Homo sapiens: one gene and its partner. The protein of the gene in region 2 interacts with the protein of the main gene of each other region in a pairwise test. Each region holds a gene or a part of one and is shown on either strand. Other genes may lie near its edges.

Region 1 (3,655 bases), on a different chromosome or scaffold from region 2:
TCTTCCCTTTTTCACACTCGCTGTCTGCCCCTGCACTCACAGGTGGAGCCAGTTCAGAGAACTGGTTGACAGGAAGAAGGATGCCCTCCTGTCTGCCCTGAGCATCCAGAACTACCACCTCGAGTGCAATGAAACCAAATCCTGGATTCGGGAAAAGACCAAGGTCATCGAGTCCACCCAGGACCTGGGCAATGACCTGGCTGGCGTCATGGCCCTGCAGCGCAAGCTGACCGGCATGGAGCGGGACTTGGTGGCCATTGAGGCAAAGCTGAGTGACCTGCAGAAGGAGGCGGAGAAGCTGGAGTCCGAGCACCCCGACCAGGCCCAGGCCATCCTGTCTCGGCTGGCCGAGATCAGCGACGTGTGGGAGGAGATGAAGACCACCCTGAAAAACCGAGAGGCCTCCCTGGGAGAGGCCAGCAAGCTGCAGCAGTTCCTACGGGACTTGGACGACTTCCAGTCCTGGCTCTCTAGGACCCAGACAGCGATCGCCTCGGAGGACATGCCAAACACCCTGACCGAGGCTGAGAAGCTGCTCACGCAGCACGAGAACATCAAGAACGAGATCGACAACTACGAGGAGGACTACCAGAAGATGAGGGACATGGGCGAGATGGTCACCCAGGGGCAGACCGATGCCCAGTACATGTTTCTGCGGCAGCGGCTGCAGGCCCTGGACACTGGATGGAACGAGCTCCACAAGATGTGGGAGAACAGACAAAATCTCCTATCCCAGTCACATGCCTACCAGCAGTTCCTCAGAGACACGAAGCAAGCCGAAGCCTTTCTTAACAACCAGGTAAGGTTTGTTCCTGCCTTTGCTTCCTTTCGGTGAAAGCAGCCCTGGCTGCCTTTTGAAATGTTTTGGCTGGGGCAGCTGGTTTAAACCACACCTGTATGGAATTATATGGATAATTTAGAGACTGATTTTTTTTTCCCCATACTCTTAAGGCATTGAAATCCATCACGTTGTAGGGGACAGGAATTGAAAGTTGCCATAAGAGCTGCTTTGCCTTACAAAGTACTGTTTGATTTCAACTGCCATTGAGGATCTCTTATGTGTTCATAGTATGTCTTCATAATTGAGGTATTGATCCAATTTAAAAGATACAGTGAGGGCCAGGCATGATGACTCACTCCTGTAATCCCAGCTCTTGGGGAGGCTGGGACAGGAGAATCACTTGAGCCCAGCAGGTCAAGGGTGAAGTTAGCCGTGATCGTGCCACTGCACTCCAGCCTGGTGGCAGGGTGAGACCCTGTCTCTTAAAAAAAAAAAAAAAAAAAAAGTACGGTGAGGATTTTTTTTTTTCTTGAGACCAGTCTGTCTTCTTGCTCTAGAAGGGTCAGGGACTTCACCTGAGGACACAAAGTAGAGATTAGAGAAATAAAAACAGCTGAGGATAGTCACCAACTTCAGGGCTGTTACTGTCTCAAAGAGAGAGTATGAAGGGTACATTGCTGTTGCCTTGATAGGCACGTGAGAGGACCCTTGAGGCTGATACACAAAGCTTTGGTTCCTTTCCTCACTCTCTTTGGAAAAAAAAATTTAGAGCATTAACCCCTGAGGGAAATTCGGTCAGTTACAGTGTCCCACTGGGTTTTTTTCCTCCTAACTTTTAATTTGATGTGATTTAATTATTTCATGTAAGTGTAATGAAGAAAGTGTTGTGAACTATGTTGCACGGAAATGTAGAACACAGGAAAATGAGATCCTTCATTGATCTGCTATGATTTGTTCCTCTTTTTAAATAAGGAGTATGTTCTGGCTCACACTGAAATGCCTACCACCTTGGAAGGAGCTGAAGCAGCAATTAAAAAGCAAGAGGACTTCATGACCACCATGGACGCCAATGAGGAGAAGATCAATGCTGTGGTGGAGACTGGCCGGAGGCTGGTGAGCGATGGGAACATCAACTCAGATCGCATCCAGGAGAAGGTGGACTCTATTGATGACAGGTACAGTTTTCTGAGGTTCTTAAGGGAGCCTTGCACCTTGGGGCTCTCAAACTTCTGAATCATTGGCCAGAAGCCCTTGGGAGTTTAGGTATAAATTTCCCAGTGGGCAGAATATGGGTGCCCAGCAGAAGTTCATCTACCCATACAGAAAATTAGTGAGCTGTGCATGACTGCCTGAGAATGTGGGTCTGGTGAGACATGTACAAGTGTCCACAAAAGGAAAGAAAGCCTGAGAAGCCAAGCTAATTCTTAACCGAGGACCTGTAAGAGCCGTAGTGCTGCATCGCGATCAGGTGTAAGCCATGCCCTTTGAGGATTAACACACGCTTGTGTCACCTGATAGGACCCCTGGCGCCAGGTATTCCCAGCCAAGCCCGTGTTCCCCTTCATCCATGAGAAAGAAGCCTGTCAGGAGAGTGGGAAGGGAGGGTGAAGCTTGCTTGTTCTGAGTACCTGGCAAAGCTACAAAGGAACATTACCTGGACTTTTTTAGAAAATTGGCTTGGATAGTGCTGTAATAGGATCTTTTTCATGATGGAGAGGTAAATAAGAGCAAAGGTTATTTTCCTCTTCTGCCAGGGCATCTCCAGGATTGGATACACTTTCTTCATTTCTTGTTTAAAATTATTTTTTTATTTACGTGTGTGTGTGTGTGTGCGTGTGTGTGTCTGTCTGTCTGTCTGAAAGATTTCCTCCCCGGCTGGAGGCCAGTGGACTCTGTTTGACCCTAACTCTTTGACTCACTCCTTACTCTTGCCTTGCCCCGGTTACTTAAGTTGGAGGTTGGGGCAGATCAGGGGTTGGATGCACTAGCACAGGCCAGTCTGGGCCAGCCACTGGATCAATCACTAGCCCCTGTTCCAGTTTGGGTTGAATTTAAGGGCTTGCTGTGAGACTGATGTAATCAAAAAACAAGCCCTTCCTTTCTGCCTCTCTTCTGGCCTTCAAGTGTGTTGGAAAGGAAAAATATTCCTTTGCTTACCACATCTGAGAGGGTTTCCTGGGACCCCTGGTCAGGTTGACTTAAAATAAGATGGGTGGAGAGGGGATTACTCTGTTTCCAATAAAGATTGAGCTCCTGTCTTTACCACTTCCAATCTTTTTTTCTGAGCTGATTCCCAGGCTGAACTATATGTTCTAGGGTGGTATTGTGGAATAGAGAATAACTTATGTTAATTATAATTTTGTATCTGTTGCTTTTAAAACAGCTGCAAAAAAGAAAAATAAATCCACCAAACCCTCCTTAAATGAGCATGAGAAACAGCAATTGGGCAAAGCATTCATAACCTAGGGAAAAAGAATTTCCTTTTTTTGTAATATTAACTCTGAGTATTTTGTAAATAAGATATCCTATGTACTTCCATGTTAGATGCACACAGCTGGTTTCCTGCAGGCGGGCTTGGCTGTTAGGGATGTGTGCATTCAGGCAGGCATGCAGCTGCCTTGCTGCTTCCTCGGTTTCTTTTTATGTCCCCAGTGCTGCAACTGCACAAAGCTGTTGGAAGCAGATGATGCTGTCTAGACTCCTGGATATGATAAAACGTTTCAGCAGCAGCAGCCCTCAGTTGTGGCTTAACCTTCATTTTGCCCTTGACCAAGAGCCTGGGCTACTGGTGTTCCAGAGCTTCCTTAGGATTCCTCAGTTTTAAAAATGAAACGTAAAGATAACCCTGTACTATCAATAAGCATAATAAAGATG
Region 2 (3,655 bases):
ATGTAACAAACCTGCATGTTCTGCACATGTATCCCAGAACTTAAAGTAAAATTTAAAAAGCAGAATAAAATTTTAAAGGTAGTGTCAATATAAATTCATACCAAGATTAGCTGAAGGGAAAGTAACTCCCATAAGACATCTCATTTTGTTTCCACTGAGCCTGTTCTGACTCCTTGAAATGGCAGAAACAGGGGTAATAACAATATCTTTTATCATGTATTACCTTATGCTTTTCAAAAAAAGTTTCAAAAACACAATAAATATTTGAATAAATGCACTTAGATAATCCCAAATCAGAGTCAAGAAAATATATAAAAGTTAAATTCAAATGATAGAATTTGTCCATTTTTCCATTCAAATTACAATTTAAGTCAAGTAAAGAAAGACATACAAAAGCTGCATGATTAGGAGGGAGTGCAGCGCTCATCCTCCTGTCCCCAAGGCCGATTAGCCAGCTGGGTGAGAGATGAGATCATGAGTTCTGGGCCAATGAGTCACTGCCCTTCACCATTGCCCCCAGACACAAACAGCTGCAGGTCTCCCAAAGCGTGTGTCCACCCTACGGAGCTGCCACCCTACAGAGGAGAAAATGTGGGTGAAAGTAAGCAAAAGCAACATCACAACCATGAAATTAACTCAGTGTTCTACAAATGGAGAATTATATATCTCTTTCTGAATGAAGAGCAGCATATTTCATACACAGTGTGGAAATAAACATTGAGTAAATTGTTTTCAAAATTGTCATACCTAGGAGTAAACCCAGCAATAGGTAAATTATAAATTAAAGGAGCCCTTCTTTCTTCCTCCATCTATCCATCCATCTAGACTGTAAGGTATTTATTAGGCATCTACTGGTGCTAAATACTTCTTAATGATTTTAGTACACCCCGATGTGCCCAGTCCTTCTGATGAAACAATATCCGGAAACTTCATGAGAATGAATTCTCTTTTTTCCACGGGACTATAGGCTTCTCAATGGTGTAGACAACACTATCTATTTGAATTTACATATCAATTTACACATATATATACAAACATAAGTATATATATTTTTTATATTCAAGAGCTATCATAGTATCTGACTATATAGTGTATGCATCTCAATAAATATTTAAACTGAACTGAACTTCTGAAACTCCTGATTGGTTTCAAAAGATATAAAAATAATAGACTTGGTTAATCTATGCATTGGATTAATACATCCTAAATATAATTAAGAGTTTGGTCTAATCCAGTGAGAACAGAGTAAACCATAAGTGTACTACATAGATGAGGGAGTAAGGAGATAAACCAGAACTGAAACCTTGAGTTGAAGAAGTCTACATTGGAGTCAGAAAAACAGGTTATATCCATAACAAACTATAACAGAAGAAGGAGAGAGCAGACGATTCCAGAGAACCAGGGAAGGCTGAGAAGCATTATTGATTTGCTAGGTGGTAAATGAGGGATGACATTTTGATGCGTTCAGATTGGGAGCAAGAAAGACGGATTCTGTAATATTCTCGGTGGGCAGAATAATGTGCATAATAAAAAGGCCAGAGTGTCCGTTTTAAGTGTTTAAGGGCCAGTGTATGGAAAGCTTGAAAAGAGATGCTAAGAATTTGCTTGGGGGGAGATAATGAGTCTCTGAAAGCCCCTTCCACAGAGGAACAATAACCCAATCAGATCTGTGCTTTGTGAGGACTGTCCTGGCAGCAGTGTGCAGGCCTGATTGGAAGGAGTTACTCAACAGAGACATAATGACATAATCCAGTATCAGAACTGGGAAGACACAGGAAGGGCTGGAACACCTTCTGAAGAGGCATCCTAGGTGTGGCTGTTAAGCTCTAAGGCCTAAGAATACCAGGCTCCCTTAGTTCTCTCTAGACTGGATGGCCCTTGAGAACAATCTACATTTTTGGTTTTGGGGGAGTTTTTTCATTTTTTTTTTGAGACAGGGTCTTGCTATGTTGTCCAGGCTGGAGTGCAGTGGCTATTTGTAGGCACAAGCATAGCGCACTGCCACCTTGAACTCCTGGCCTCAAGCAATCCTCCCGCCCCAGCCTTCCAAGGAGCTGGGACTATAGGCATGCACCACCATGCCTGGCACTCTACATTTTTAAGTACCCTGCAATGTACAACACTGTACTGTGTATACAGTAGGTGCTAGTGTTTGTGAATGAATAAATAAACACAATGGAAGAAATTAATGGATAAGTTAATGTCTCTAGGAGATAATTCTATAAACTAAGGAACACAAAATGATTAATAGAGTCGAGGCAATTTAAGGCCCCCAAATCTACTGTTTAAATTGAATACAGATGCTCTATCCCCAAGGACAGTGTCTCACATTTCATTTTGCTTGGCCTGCAGCTATAACACAAGACGCTAGGGAAACATTAAGACTTGTACTGAAATACGCAAACTTTTTTTCTTCAGAAGATTTGTGATCCCAAAACAGCTCTTGCAACTCTAAGTTTCCAGTGTAGCAGAAATATTAGAACCCCGTTTTATCTCTGTATTTACTTTTTTTTTCACTTGACCATTGTAAAATAATCTTCCTTTTCCTATCAGTGTTGGAGTAAGATGAGGCATGCTTTCACTACAAATGCAAAACACGCACATTCTCCTGTGTTAAAAATAAAGTCCAATAATCAATCCACTCACAAACCAAGAGATGACAGGTACAGGCCAGGCGCGGTGGCTCACTCCTGTAATCCCAGCACTTTGAGAAGCCGAGGCAGGCGGATCACTTGAGTTTAGGAGCTCAAGACCAGCCTGGCCGACATGGTGAAACTCTGTCTCTACTAAAAATACAAAAATTAGCTGCACGTGGTGGGGCATGCCTGTAATCCCAGGTACTTGGGAGGCTGAGGCAGAAGAATTGCTTGAACCTGGGAGGCGGAGGTTGCAGTGAGCCAAGACTGCGCCACTGCACTCCAGCCTGGGCTACAGAGCAAGACTCCGTTTCAAAAAAAAAAAAAAAAAGATGACAGGTATGAAAAAGAAAAGTTAGGTAGGCGTACATGTCACAAAATGCAATTTCAACTCAGATTCCACATTCAGGACACAACTTACTCATTAAACTTTAGATATTTCACCTTTCAACCTGTGAAAGCGATTAGTCTCCATGCAAGGCCACCTGTCAAATGCACGTTTCTACTCCTGGTAGATTTGTTCATCTGGGCGAACATAATTGTGTTAATGATCAATATCAATCCTAGACATGTACAGCTCTGGGGAGTTAAAGTAGCTACGACATTCGGGCAGATGACTGCAAAGAAGCTATCTAGGCTTCCTGAAATGGAACCACCTGGGCAAGGGAAGGAAGCAAAATGTGGAAGCCCAATGAGCAGGGAATAGGAAATTTACACAGTAGCTCAAATCCTGCACAATCCCAATCCTGCAGGACAACGATCACAGCATCTTAGCACTGGAAGGGTTCCCATTCATCATCCAACGCAGCCCCCTCCCCAGTGCAGAACCCTCATGACAGTCACCCTAGAGTCATCCACACTGCCCTACATACTTCCAATGACAAAATGCTCTCTGCCTTTCGGGGTAGCCTATTCCATCAATGGATAACTATTTTTAGCAAGTTTTTAATTTAGTCAAAAAGTGATACCTTTCTAATGTGTGGCTGTCATGCTAATTCTAATTCTGAACCAAGTAGCCA

What was found. The genes of interacting proteins can lie anywhere in the genome.
Region 1: the proteins of DISC1 (region 2) and SPTBN1 interact in binary tests that used the Homo sapiens proteins (3 or more experiments, as listed by UniProt).

What each region holds. Positions count from the first base shown.
Region 1 is NC_000002.12:54,630,813-54,634,467, forward strand, and holds part of SPTBN1 (spectrin beta chain, non-erythrocytic 1), read left to right. Parts: intron 1-42; coding exon 43-799; intron 800-1,753; coding exon 1,754-1,956; intron 1,957-3,655. UniProt on the Homo sapiens protein: Fodrin, which seems to be involved in secretion, interacts with calmodulin in a calcium-dependent manner and is thus candidate for the calcium-dependent movement of the cytoskeleton at the membrane.
Region 2 is NC_000001.11:231,633,197-231,636,851, reverse strand, and holds part of DISC1 (disrupted in schizophrenia 1 protein), read right to left. Parts: intron 1-3,655. UniProt on the Homo sapiens protein: Involved in the regulation of multiple aspects of embryonic and adult neurogenesis. Required for neural progenitor proliferation in the ventrical/subventrical zone during embryonic brain development and in the adult dentate gyrus of the hippocampus.